4 linked regions of the Homo sapiens genome follow. The gene in region 1 interacts genetically with each later gene. Each region holds a gene or a part of one and is shown on either strand. Other genes may lie near its edges.

Region 1 (3,441 bases):
CTGGCACTGAGGGGGGCTTTGCAGAGAGCACGGGCCCTGCATGTGACCTCCCTGGGCTTCAGGTTTTCACTCAGGGTCTGTGGAAGGGGCTGGCATAAATTCTCAGGAAATTGGGCTTCTGGGTTCCAATTTAGCCACTCTCCAGCTTGGTGACCTTGACCCTCCCGCTTTTCTGTAAGCTTTGGTTTCTTTTTTTCTTTTTTTTTTTTTTTGAGACAGAGTTTTGCTGTTGTTGCCCAGGCTGGAGTGCCAGTGGCCTGATCTTGGCTCACTGCAACCTCCACCTCCTAGGTTCAAGTGATTCTCCTACCTCAGCCTCCCAAGTAGCTGGGATTACAGGCACGCGCCACCATGCCCAGCTAATTTTTGTATATTTACTAGAGACGGGGTTTCACCATGTTGGCCAGGATGGTCTCAATCTCTTGACCTCATGATCTGCCTGCCTTGGCTTCCCAAAGTGCTGGGATTACAGGCATGAGCCACCGCGCCCGGCCTAGCTTCGGTTTCTTTACTGTTACGTGAGGCTGAAGAGAACCTCCCCAGTCTGTTGGAAAGGTCACTATGAGCAGTTGATGGGGAAGGATGTTCAGCACAAGAAGCAGTGCAGGTGGGAGAGTCCGGGTACTGATGTGGCCTCTTGGACCACCGCCAGTGCTGCCTTCTGTTCCCAGAAAGCCAGGGCAGACCTCCTTCGTGCTGCCTCTGCCATACAGAGCAAGGGGCATAAGTGAATCCTCCTGTCCACTGAGCTCAGGAAACTCATTCTAAGGGAAGAGATTGGCAGAAAGAGGGGGGCCAGGCGAGTTGGGCCTCCCACATCAGAATATCTTGATAAAGAGTCAGACCCCAGAGCCAGGCTTCCCTGGTTCATATCCCACCTGTGTCACTGGCACCAAGCCAGCCTCCTTCCCTGCTTCAATTTCTTCATCTGTGTACCGGGAATCATCATAGTACCTGCCTGCCAAGCTCTTAATAACATTTGTGGCACACAGTATGAGCTCGAATGTTCACTGCTGCTATTACCAGGCAAAATTTGGAAATACAGTGTTGCTTAAATTGGGTATCTATAGGCTGGGTGCAGTGGCTCACATCTGTAATCCCAGCACTTTGGGAGGCAAAGGTGGGTAGATCACTTGAGGTCAGGAGTTCGAGACCAGCCTGGGCAACATAGTGAAATCTCGACTCTACTAAAAATACAAAAATTAGCTGGGCGTGGTGGTACATGCTTCTAATCCCAGCTACTCGGGAGGTTGAGGCAGGAGAATCACTTGACCCAGGAAGCAGAGGTTTGCAGTGAGCAAAGATGGCGCCACTGCACTCCAGACTGGGCAATGGAGCCAGACTCTGTCTCAAAAAAAAAAAAAAAAAAAAAAAATTGGGTGTCTTACCTGGCAAAGTGATTTCATCTCCTGCTCACTCAAGTAGAAGTAGACTGCACTGCAAGGAGAAATAAAAAATATTTAAGTCCTCATAGTCATAAAGAAATACTGAACACATGGCAAGAGCACCTCACTTTTTTTTTTTTTTTTTTGAGATGAAGTCTTGCTCTGTCGCCCAGGCTGGAGTGCAGTGGCGCGATCTTAGCTCACTGCAGCCCCCACCTCCCAGGTTCAAGCGATTCTCCTGCCTCAGCCTCCCAAGTAGCTGGGATTACAGGCACGCGCCACCACGCCTGGCTAATTTTTGTATATTTAGTAGAGACAGGGTTTCACCATGTTAGTCAGGCTGGTCTCAAACTCCTGACCTCGTGATCTGCCCACCCTGGCATCCCAAAGTGCTGGGATTACAGGCATGAGCCACCGCACCTGGCCAAGAGCGCATCACTTTGAAGGCGCATCCACTGTGGGCCTGCCCTGGGCACCTACCCTTGTGTCTGGATAGCCTGGGAGAAGGGCTCTGTGATTGGCCAAGGGTGACTTAAGCTCTGCTGTGGAGAGGATGGGGAGACCCGCCTCCCAGGAGTGAGTCCTGGATGCGGAAGAGGGAGCGGCAGGGGGAGTCAGGGCTGGAAAAGTCCCAGCCTGCTCAGAAGGCCTGGAACGCTGGGATAAGAGGTTGGACTTTGTCCTTTTGGCAGCAGGGGGCCACGGAAGGGTGTTGCATGCTGAAGGGCCGTGGTCAGCCTGTTTTGGGGAGACTGTACGCTTCACTCCTGCCCCCTGGAGCTTCCAGGACTGCCTCATATCCTCCCCTCCCCCCAAAAAAGGTCAGGAATTGGGCTGGGCTGGCCTGGCTGTGGTGACCCTGGTCTTCTCCTGTCTCCAGAGAGATCTTGGTAGAGGAGAGCAACGTGCAGAGGGTGGACTCGCCAGTCACAGTGAGTACCTGCTGTCCCTGCAGAGCCAGGCCTGGTCTTTCAGGCACATGAAGTTTCCTCTTCATCTTGGGGGCTCTATAAGCCCAACCCTAAGCTCTTTTATCTGTCCTTTCCCTCACCTTCAACGGAGCACTGCTAAAAGAAGTGGGGGTTGCTGTGCACGTTGGCTCACACCTGTGATCCCAGCATTTTGGGAGGGCAAGGTGGGCACATCACTTGAGGTTAGGAGTTCGAGACCAGCCTGGCCAACATGGTGAAACCGTTTCTACTAAAAATACAAAAATTAGCCACGCGTGGTGGCACGTGCCTGTAATCCCAGCTACTTGGGAGGCTGAGGCAGGAGAATCGCTTGAACCCCAGAGTTGGAGATTGCAGTGAGCTGAGATCAGGCCACTGCACTCCAGCCTGGGTGACAGAGGGAGACTCCGTCTCAAAAAAAAACAAAAAAAAACAAAAAAAACAGGCCGGGCGCGGCGGCTCACGCCTGTAATCCCAGCACTTTGGGAGGCCGAGGCAGGTGGATCATGAGGTCAGGAGATCGAGACCATCCTGGCTAACATGGTGAAACCCCATCTCTACTAAAAATACAAAAAAATTAGCCAGGTGTGGTGGTGGACACCTGTAGTCCCAGCTACTCGGGAGGCTGAGGCAGGAGAATGACGTGAACCCAGGAGGCGGAGCTTGCAGTGAGCCGAGATCGCGCCACCGCACTCCAGGCTAGGCGACAGAGTGAGACTCCGTCTAAAAAAAAAAAAAAGAAAGGAAAGAAAAGAAAGGGGTTATGGGAAGGGACTTTGGATTTGTTAGTGGAGATTCTTGGCCAGGGCAGAAGGACTCCTATTTGGCGAGTGATTCTGCTCACATATCTCCAGGGCTCTGTGTTAGTAACTTGATTCTGGGTACTTTGTGGGGAGTAGAGAGAGGAAGGGGCCGGGACATCTACCTGGAAGGACTTAGTTCTAGCTCTTGCCTACAGAATAGTTGGTACTCAGCATAGGACAGTGGGTATGGTTCCAGACCAGACTGACTTGGGGTGGGAGAGGAGAATTTTGGTCCTAGGAAGTAGAAGTGCAGCCAAGAGTGATAAAGCTCACTAAAGCAGCGGGTGTTTGGAGGGTAGTCCC
Region 2 (3,500 bases), on another chromosome or scaffold:
AAAAAACGGTTTCTTAAAAATTTATGTGTTGGGCTGGACATGGTGGCTCACATCTGTATCCTAGCACTTTGGGAGGATTGCTTGACCCAGGAGTTTGAGACTAGCCTGGGCAACATGGTGAGACTCTCTCTCTAGAAGAAAAACAAAAAATTAGCTAGGTGTGGTGATGCACACCCGTGCTCCCAGCTACTCAGGAGGGTGAGGCAGGAAGATCACTTGAGCCTGGGAGGTTGAGGCTGCAGTGAACCGAGATCACGCCATTGCATTCCAGCCTGGGCAACGGAGTGAGATCCTGTCTCAAAAAAACCCCAAAGAAACAAAAAAACAAAAAAAAACCAACTATGCGGAGCCAGGCATGGTGGCATGTGCCTGTAATTCCAGCTACTGGGATACCAAAAAAATTCTATGTGAAGGGTGAATTATATGGTATGTGAGTTATATCTCAATAAAGCTGTTATAAAAACAAATCTATGTGAACATGACAGTATAGCATAATGGTGGAAAGAATGTGTTTGAGAACTATGTAGACTTGGTTTTATATACCTACCTCTTGCCAGATAAGTGACCTTGGGCAAGTTATAGAACTAACTTCTCTGACTTTCAGTATCCTCATCTATAAATAAGAAATGTTTGTTATGAGTTTTTTTGTTTGCTTTTTTCTTTTTCAGAGATAGAATCTTGCTCTGTCACCCAGGCTGGAGTGCAGTGGCGGAATCTCGGCTCACTGCAAACTCCATCTCCCAGGTTCAAGCATTTCTCATGCCTCTGCCTCCTGAGTAGCTGCGACTACTGGCGCAAGCCATCATGCTCGGCTAATTTTTTGTATTTTTAATAGAGACAGGGTTTCGTCATGTTGCCAGGCTGGTCTCGAACTCCTGACCTCAGACAGTCTGCCCGCCTTGGCCTCCCAAAGTGCTGGGATTACAGGTTATGAGCCACTATACCTGGTCTGTTATGAGTTTCAAATGAAATTAAATGAGATAATTTATGTTCATCACTTATCAAGTCTTTTGTAATTAATAAGCCCTCAGTAGTGGGTAGATTTTATCATCATTAGCTTTTATAATCTAATTACACTTACATGCAAAAAATAAATTTTAAAAAGTTGAGCAAATATGGAATTAGCCACAGCTTGAAATATATGTGTCTTTTAACTCTGCTCTTTCATTCCTTGAAACCTGCAGCTGGTCATCAATGCTGCTTTGGGATTTGACACATTTGTTGTCATGAGACATGGTCTGAAGAAACCAAAGCAGCAAGGAGCTGGGGACTTGTGTCCAAACCACCCTGTGGCATCTGCTGACCTCCTGGGCTCATCGCTTTTTGCCAACATCCCTGGTTACAAGCTTGGCTGCTACTTCTGCAATGATGTGGTGGCCCCAGGAGATGTAAGTGGATTTCTCTATAGTTCCAAATATTTCCTATCACCAACTTGTACACTGAGGCAGACCGACTTGGCCCTTTCATTTATGACTATTTAAATATTATCTTTTAACAAAGAGAAGAATTCTCCAATTTGGGGAGGATGGCATTATCTCATTATGAACCTTGACTGGCGTCATCAACTGTACACCTGTTCCTTGTTCACCAATATAAACGCGGCTACAAACCATATTTTTGGAAAGCTTATTGAGGAAACCACAGCAGACTAGTCCCTGATAGCACTCCGTATTGTCTCCGGTGCTTCTCTTAGTCAAGATAACATTACAAATCAGGAGTCTAAAGACCAGATTCCATCAATGGCTTGACACTGCCTCCCAGGTAGTTCTAAAAAGTCTCTTAGGTTCCCTCTACCTTTGCAAAATAGGAGTGATGTGTAGGCTTGTCAGATTTAGTAAGTAAAAATATAGGATTCCCAGCTAACTTTGAATTTCAGTTAATAATGAATTCTTTTTTTTTTTTTTTTGAGACAGAGTTTCGCCCTGTCACCCAGGCTCGAGTGCAGTGGCACAATCTCGGCTCCCTGCAACCTCTGCCTCCTGGGTTCAAGTGATTCTCCTGCCTCAGCCTCCTGAGTAGCTGAGATTACAGGTGTGTGCCACCATGCCCAGCTAATTTTTGTATTTTTAGTAGAGACGGGGTTTCACCATGTTGGTCTGGCTGGTCTCGAACTCCTGACCTCGTGATCCACCTGCCTCAGTCTCCCAAAGTGCTGGGATTACAGGTGTGAGCCACCACGCTTAGCCAATAATGAATAATTTTTTGGTATATGTCCCATGCAATATTCAAGACCCACTTATACTAAAAATTTATTTATCTGAAATTCAAATTTAACTGAGTGTCTTGTATTCTCCCTAGCAATGCTAATAGAGGAGGGAAGAATACCTGCCCTGTCAACTCACAGTGCAAAGTGGGTCAAGTGCGACAGTGCTTTGAACAGCAAGACTACACTGTACAAATTAAGATTCTATGACTTTCAGAACTCCACACAAGTCAGTCTGTATGTAGGTCTGTTCCTTTATCAGAACAGATAACGATTTCCAGTGAAACAATGCAGAGATGTTTTCTGTAACCTCCCCTCTATTTTTCCTTTGTTTTAAAACTTTTCCCTTAATAACTCATATCTCTTTTGGATGACTGGCTTTTATGCCCTCCCAATATAAAGAAAAGAAGATGACCATTCTCTTTTATGGAGAAAGATGGCTTGATGATCTCTGTTATGGTGTTATAATATATAGCTGGTCTTGTTATTTAGTGATTGTCAACAAATACGATTAGTGGTCCCTTGCAGTAAAGTCCCATCTGCTCATAAGGTAAAATTTTTATAGAGTCAAAAATATCTCTAACAACCTCTTAATTTGCCCAGAGTTGGATGGTTAGACTCTCTTTGGTTGAACCAGCAAAGGCTTGTGCTTAGAGCCATGTTGTAGAAAAAAAAAATACTTGTAGTAAACCCTAGAATCACACAGAGAGGTGATGCCCATGTTGTGAGAGGCACATAGGAACTGAGGGCCGCAGGAATAGTAAATTGTTGCTCCCATCTCACGGTCACTTTGAGGTGTTAGCTCAGTTAAAATGGCAGGGCAGAATCATTTGCACTTTTCAAATCATTGTTCCTTTCTGTGTCTCTGTCACTTAACTACCAAGCACAGTAGAACTGAATTGAGTCACTTAAAGGAACACATGATGCAGTTCCATTATATGAGGCAGCTAAGCCCTCATTTTTGGTTAATATCCCCCAATCTGTTTAGGCTACTGATCCTTTTTAGCATATCACCTCATTTAGTTACCTAAATTGTATATTTTGTTTATCTTGATAATCTCAAGAAATGATGTACTTGAGGCTGGATGTTCTTTGCCAACAATGAGCATCTGGTTATAATTTAAAGCTTTGTCACAGAGGATTTCATACTTGAGACAGCTAGAGTTGAATGGAGTAGAACGTTCTGCACACACCAATGATTGTTTCTTTGCAGTCAACCAGAGACCGGACCTTGGACCAGCAGTGCACTGTGAGTCGTCCAGGACTGGCCGTGATTGCAGGAGCCCTGGCCGTGGAA
Region 3 (3,500 bases), on another chromosome or scaffold:
TCCGGCATTTATGACTTTATAGTACACCTTTCTTCCCTCCTGTAGAAGATGCTTATAAGATCAGGATCCGTATTGATGATGAGCCTGCCAATCTGGACATTTTGGATACAGCTGGACAGGTATTAAATCCCAGAATGTTATGAGTAAAGGCTTTTTTACTCTAGCAAAGGGGAGGGGAAGGCCTACACAGAGAAGATCAATAGTTTATCTCTCTTAATTTTTCATGCACTCTGACTCAGGATAGCAGGTAATCGACATGCGTTTTCTTTAATCTGAAAGAAATAGCTAATTGTGTGTGTAGTTGGGCTAGATTGCGTCAATACATAATGACCCTTGTTTCCCTCTAGGCAGAGTTTACAGCCATGCGGGACCAGTATATGAGGGCAGGAGAAGGGTTTATCATCTGTTACTCTATCACGGATCGTCGAAGTTTCCATGAAGTTCGTGAGTTTAAACAGCTTATTTATCGAGTCCGACGTACTGACGATACACCTGTGGTTCTTGTGGGAAACAAGTCAGACCTCAAACAGCTAAGACAGGTGAGGATAGAGAAGAAAATACTGTCTATAATCTTATACAATTAGTCATTTTTGTTTCTTGGCTTACAGATTCTTGGCTTGGCTTACAGATTTTTTTGCCTTAAAATAGAAAATCAGGCTGGGTGAGGTGGCTCACACCAGTACTTTGCGGGGCCAAGGTGGGCAGGTTGCTTAAGGTCAGGAGTTTGAGACCAGCCTGAGCAACATGGCGAAACCCCATCTCTACAAAAAATACAAAAAAACATAGCTGGGCATAGTGGTGCATGCACATGTGGTCCCAGCTAGTTGGGAGGCTGAGGTGGGAGGATCCCTTGACCTGGGGAGGTGGAGGTTGCAGTGAGGTTGGGGCTACAGCTTACTGCAGCCTCTACCTCCCCAGCTCAAGCAATCATCCCAGTTCAGCTTTGAGGGTAGCTGGGACCACAGGCGTGTGCCACCACTCCCAGCTAATTGTTTTTACTTTTTGTGGAGACAGGATCTCACTATGTTGCCCAGGCTGATCTTGAACACCTGGACTCAAGTGATCCTCCTGCCTTGGCCTCCCAAAGTGTTGGGATTACAAGTGTGAGCCACAGCGCCTGGCTGGAAGTAGTTTGATAGTAGTCAAATTCATAATGCTTCTCTGTTAATCTCCATTGGAAAAAATTTATAGGGATTTATATATAACATGTTCATTGCAAGACTATTTATGGTAGAAGAAAATGAGAAACAATCTAGCTGTCCAAAAGTAGAAATTATGGCATATCCATAATTAGATGTATCAATTATGGGCTCCTAATAGTTTTCAATATTTTAGTGTAAGCATATATCTCTTTCCCTCCCTTTGTGTTTCTTTCTTTTTTTTTTTTTTTTTTTTTTGAGACAGAGTCTCACTCTGTTGCCTTGGCTGGAGTGCAGTGGCACAATCTCGGCTCACTGCAACCTCCTCCTCCTGGGTTCAAGTGAGTCTCCTGCCTTAGCCTCCTGAGTAGCTGGGATTACAGGCGCATGCCACCACGCCCGGCTAATTTTTTTTTGAGACGGAGTCTTGTCTGTCGCCCAGGCTGGCGTGCAGTGGCACGATCTCTGCTCACTGCAAGCTCTGCCTCCCAGGTTCATGCCATTCTTCTGCCTCAGCCTCCCGAGTAGCTGGGACTACAGGTGTCCGCCACCATGCCTGGCTAATTTTTTGTATTTTTAGTGAGATGGGGTTTCACCGTGTTAGCCAGGATGGTCTCGATCTCCTGACCTCGTGATCAGCCTGCCTCGGCCTCCCAAAGTGCTGGGATTACAGGCATGAGCCACCGCGCCCGGCCTAATTTTTGTATTTTTAAGTAGAGACGGGGTTTCACCATGTTGGTCAGGCTGGTCTCAAACTCCTGACCTCATGATCTTCCCACCTCGGCCTCCCAAAGTGCTGGGATTACAGGCGTGAGCCACCGCGCCCAGCTTTCTTTTTTTTTAATTTTTATTTTAATTTTGTTGTTTTGAGACAGAGTCTCACTCTGTTGCCCAGGCTGGAGTGCAGTGGCGCAATCTAGGCTCACTGCAACCTCTCTGACTCCTGAGTTCAAGCGATTCTCCTGCCTCAGCCTCCTGAGTAGCTAGGATTACATGTGCCTGCCACCACATCCAGCTAATTTTTGTATTTTAGTAGAGACGGGGTTTCACCATGTTGGCCGGGCTGGTCTTGAAGTCCTGACATCAGGTGATCCACCTACCTTGGCCTCCCAAAGTGCTGGGATTATAGATGTGAGCCACCACACCCAGCGTTTTTTTGTTTTGTGTTGTTTTTTAGACAGAGTTTCACTCTTATCACCCAGGCTGGAGTGCAGTGGCATGATGTTGGCTCACTGCAACCTCTGCCTCCTGGGTTCAAGCAATTCTCCTGCCTCAGCCTCCCAAGTAGCTGGGATTACAGGCGCCTGCCACCATGCCCAGCTAATTTTTCTTTTCTTTTTTTTTTTTTTGATATAAAAGCATTTTTAAACTTTATTATTAATACTCAGGACATTAGGAATTTCCAGATTTTTTTCAGTAGCATTTGTAGAACCACTTTTGGTAACAAATACAGTAGTTAGGAATATGCATCCAGTTCAGAATGCATAATAATGTTTCTCCTGAATCCTTTCCGGCTAAAAACAGGGCTGGCACTGTGATGAGATATAGAACGAGAATCTACAAAAAACACTGTAACATGTTTGTTTTTTCCCAGAGGCTACATCCTCTTTTGCTGGAATACTTTATAAATACATATTAAAAAGTAAGGCAACAACTCCAAACAGTCCAAGCTGTTTGCTCAACTCTTTTCCCAATTAGATTTGCAATCCCGGTGATCAGTTTCATGGTTGTATTGTTTAGTGTTTCTTTCTTATTTTAGTAGAGATGGGGTTTCACCGTGTTGGCCATGCTGGTCTTGAACTCCTGACCTCAGGTGATCTGCCTGCCTGCTTCAGCCTCCCAAAGTGCTGGGATTACAGGCATGAGCCACCGCACCCAACTTTTTTTTTTCTTGAGACAGGGTCTTGCTCTGTCACTGAGGCTGGAGTGCAGTGGCGCAAACATGGCTTACCGCAGCCTTGACCTCCTGGGCTCAAGTGATCCTCTTACCTTAGCCTCCTGAGTAGCTGGGACCACAGGTGTATACCACCACATCCAACTAATTTTTTTTTCTTTTTTTGAGACAGAGTCTGGCTCTGTCACCCAGGCTGGAGTGTGACACCTGGAGTGCAGTGCCGCGATCTTGGCTCACTGTAACCTCCGCCTCCCAGGTTTAAGCGATTCTCCTGCCTCAGCCTCACGAGTAACTGGGATTACAGGTGCCCAACACCATGCCCAGCTAGTTTTTTTTAAGTGGAGACAGGGTTTTGCCATGTTGACCAGGTTGGTCTCGAACCCCAGACCTCAAGTGATCCACCTGCCTCAGCCTCCCAAAGTGTTGGGATTACAGGCGTGAGCCACCGCTCCTGGCCCCAGCTAAAT
Region 4 (3,500 bases), on another chromosome or scaffold:
GCAAGGGGAAAGGGCCCAGGGAGCCGGCTCATGACGATGAGCCTGTCTGAAGCTTCAACGCGGGCTGTCCGGCAGTCTGCATTCCTGCCGAGTTCCTCAGCCCTCTGTTGGGTCACCTTCCATAGAGGCAGCTTAGTCCTCAGTTCAGTGAGCATGGAGTGGAGACTGCTTGAGGGGTGCTGAGCAAAGCCCTGCCTCTTACAGGATGAAGGTGCTCTCCAGAAGGGACACTGGAAAGTATTCCAAGGCGAGTCGAATTCCCAACTGAGGGAGCTTTGTGGAAATAAGCCCGCCCAGCCCCACTTCTGGAGACGTTCCCATTCAGTAGGTCCGAGCTGTCTTAAAGAGAAACCAAAGTGGGGATATTAATGGTATCCAAAGTGAGATCTACCCCACCCTCCCTCCTCAAAGGAGGTCAGATCAAGAAAGCCCAAGCCCGGCCTGGCAATTGGGACCTTTCTTCTCACTCCAGCCCAGGGTGAAGGTGGACAAGTCACTTTGACCCTTCAGGCTTCTGAGCTGTTGTTTCTGAATTCAGTGAATATTTACTGAGTGCATAGAATATGCTAGATATTCTGGGCTAAAGGTTGAAGGGGGGGTGAGTTTTAAGGGTTTCTGCTCTTGCTTCCAGATTGCTTTCAAATCTGGAAAGGACACCAGTGGTTTGTGTGTTAGACCCACACTGCCGTAGCACAGAATACAAGAAACTGGCTGAGAGCTCCAATAGGCTTTTAACAGTAATTTCTGGCTTCACGTATTTAGTTTCATAACTCATGATTTTTCAAAAACTTCTGGTTTGAAGACACCGATTGCCGAAAGTCCATTGTGCTGCATAATTACACTTGGTCCACGTGACAGCACTAACATGTTCTGAAATGTTTTTAGAAGTAGTCTCAGCAAAGATGAAGGATTCCTCCCTGTTTGAAAAGAAAATATTCTTTGTTTTTTCTTTGATCTAAGCTCTAAGACTAGCAGCTAGCATCTGAAACTTTTTTGACGAGAGTGACAAACCAACTCTAATATTAAAGGCAATTGATGATTATGGGCACTGAAGGGAAGGTAACCCCAGGCTGGTGCCCCGGAATAGGGATGGGTCACAATGTTGAGGACATTTCGCCTGTTGCAGAACCCACCTGCAACACAGTGTGGCCCTTGCCATGTGACTTGTGTGTGTGCCTGTGTGTCTGTGTGTGCGTGTTTTAATTTTGACTTCATAAGTACTCTAGTTATGAGCTTATTTAACATTGGGTTTTACTAATAGGGGTATGTGTTGAGAAAATTTCAAAGTTTTAGAATATGGTTCACCCACATGTTGCTTCCCTGTAAATATAATTTTTAAAACCAGATTCTGGGCCGGGCATGGTGGCTCACCTCTATAATCCCAAAACGTTGGGAGGCCGAGGCAGGCGAATCATGAAGCCAGGAGTTTGAGACCAGGCTGACCAACACGGTGAAACCCAGTCTCTACTAAAAATACAAAAAAAATTAGCTGGGCGTGGTGGCAGGTGCCTGTAATCCCAGCTACTCAGGAGGCTGAGGCAGGAGAATTGCTTGAACCCAGGAGGCAGAGGTTGCAGTGAGCCAAGATCGCACCATTGCACTCCAGCCCGCGCGACAGTGTGAGACTCCATCTCAAAAAAAAAAAAAAAAAAACAGATTCTGTTCCTCAGATCCATTCCATTTTTGTTTTCCTTTATCACTTATGGACATTTGAAATTATGGTAATAAACATTGTTAGTCTCAGTTAATTATTACTGGTTTATTCTTGAACCACTAATCCATAGAGAATAGAGTGTAAATCTTAACTTGTTCCTGTAGGCCATCCCCATTAAACATCATAGTGTTTTCTCATTCGTTCTTTTTCGTTTTCCTCCTACAGGAATGAATTTTCTAAGAAAATTCCAGCAGTTGGCTCTTTGGACGACATCTCTAGATTGTCCTCCATTGGGCCCATAGGCACAAGCTGGCCAGTTTGAATTTGGGCAAGAATCCAGGCATTGGAACTTATTCAAATAACTAGTTTGCCTGTAATTTTCACTTTTTCAGAGTCATCTGATAAAGCTTTCTTGCTACACATTTAGATAGATACACTCAATCCAGTTGTCTAGAAAGTTCCCTGAGCCAGCTGGGAGCAGGAGGGGTAGTTGGGGCCAGGAATATTGGGGGTGTGTTTACTGAGCCCCTAGAAAGTAAGTGCTAGATTTGACATTTCAATCCCTGAAGGCCCTGAAGTTCAGTATCAAATGACTGGTCCTGTGGACTGAGCATCTGTGAATTGCATATGCTTAGAGTAAATTTTACTCCTACCAGTTTCAGCAGCTTGCTTTAGCAAGCAGTATGGAAACACTAACATGGGGGAGTAGAATTTCTCTCTCTGATCCAAGTTTTATCTCATTCTGGTGGGTTTTCAAGGAGAGACTCGGAGTCCAAGTGTCCTTTCTGAATATATCTGGAACTTCTCATTAACAAAAGACTCAAGTTATAATTTAGGGGACAAGGCACCCAATGAGAATGCCTTGCAGGCAGCCCTAAGTACACCTGCAATTACACCATTACTAGCGCGGCAGCACACATGGCCCTGACTTAGTTTAAATAATTACGTAAGTCAACCATGATTGTTTGCCCTTTGCATAGAAGGGCAAGTATTGGTACCTGTTACAACTTAGGCTTTTTTTTCTTTATGTTTGAGCCATGATGAGTGATTTACACTGTTGCATCCATATGTTGAGATGTAAGAATAAATTAGACTTGGTAATTGCCCTTAAGTGTCTGGAAGTCAACTGGGGAAAGAGAGCTAGAGATAATAAGTGTGAAACAATGTCACAGAATCAATGACGGAACTCTTCCCAGGACAAAGGATGACTTTTGAGTTCAGTCTTTGCCTTTAATTCTACATGGGGAGGAGAGCACGTTTAGCCACAAATGGAAGGGATTACTCATTTGAGCTATTTGGTTATATGATTATTTCCCCAGAGAATAGGATGTGCAGGGCATTACACAAGCAGTGCCAATAGCAGCAAAGTTCTTGAGAGTGCTAGTAATTCAAATGGCAGGAAGAGAAGGAATAAATGGTAAGGCTACCTACAGTTCACAGAGAGCTCCATCCTCACTGTGGCTTTGGATTTTGTCCTGTGTGAAAGAGAAGTGACTGTGAACTGACATGCTGTGTTTGGTGTTTTAGAAAGATGGCTGCAGCAGCGGTTTGGGGAATGGACTGCAGGAGTGGCATTGGAAACAGGAAGGTTCATGACTATTGCCAGAGACAGAGGATGAAGCAGGAGCAAGGAAGATTCAGGACAGGGGACTCCGGGGCTGATCAGGAGGCAGAACTGGTTGATAAGTATATGTAGCAGCATAAGAAAGAAAGAATCCCAGATTGACACCCAGGCTTCTCACTTGGAAGCCTGGATAGATACTGAATGCAATCACAAAGGCTGGGAAGTCAATGGGACTGCAGGGAAGGGAAGGGAAGGGAGGAGAAGAGGAAGGGCAGGAGGGTC

What was found.
Region 2: of PPP4C (region 1) and ATG7, changing one suppresses a phenotype caused by changing the other (phenotypic suppression), as found in Homo sapiens cells (one large-scale study listed by BioGRID).
Region 3: changes in PPP4C (region 1) and RIT1 together harm fitness more than expected from each alone (negative genetic interaction), as found in Homo sapiens cells (one large-scale study listed by BioGRID).
Region 4: changes in PPP4C (region 1) and EGFR together harm fitness more than expected from each alone (negative genetic interaction), as found in Homo sapiens cells (one large-scale study listed by BioGRID).

The regions. Positions count from the first base shown.
Region 1 is NC_000016.10:30,078,994-30,082,434, forward strand, and holds part of PPP4C (serine/threonine-protein phosphatase 4 catalytic subunit), read left to right. Parts: intron 1-2,206; exon of another isoform or gene 2,207-2,265; coding exon 2,266-2,317; intron 2,318-3,441. UniProt on the Homo sapiens protein: Protein phosphatase that is involved in many processes such as microtubule organization at centrosomes, maturation of spliceosomal snRNPs, apoptosis, DNA repair, tumor necrosis factor (TNF)-alpha signaling, activation of c-Jun N-terminal kinase MAPK8, regulation of histone acetylation, DNA damage checkpoint signaling, NF-kappa-B activation and cell migration.
Region 2 is NC_000003.12:11,359,397-11,362,896, forward strand, and holds part of ATG7 (ubiquitin-like modifier-activating enzyme ATG7), read left to right. Parts: intron 1-1,184; coding exon 1,185-1,388; intron 1,389-3,416; coding exon 3,417-3,500. UniProt on the Homo sapiens protein: E1-like activating enzyme involved in the 2 ubiquitin-like systems required for cytoplasm to vacuole transport (Cvt) and autophagy.
Region 3 is NC_000001.11:155,901,350-155,904,849, reverse strand, and holds part of RIT1 (GTP-binding protein Rit1), read left to right. Parts: intron 1-45; coding exon 46-119; intron 120-347; coding exon 348-539; intron 540-3,500.
Region 4 is NC_000007.14:55,022,017-55,025,516, forward strand, and holds part of EGFR (epidermal growth factor receptor isoform a precursor), read left to right. Parts: intron 1-3,500. UniProt on the Homo sapiens protein: Receptor tyrosine kinase binding ligands of the EGF family and activating several signaling cascades to convert extracellular cues into appropriate cellular responses.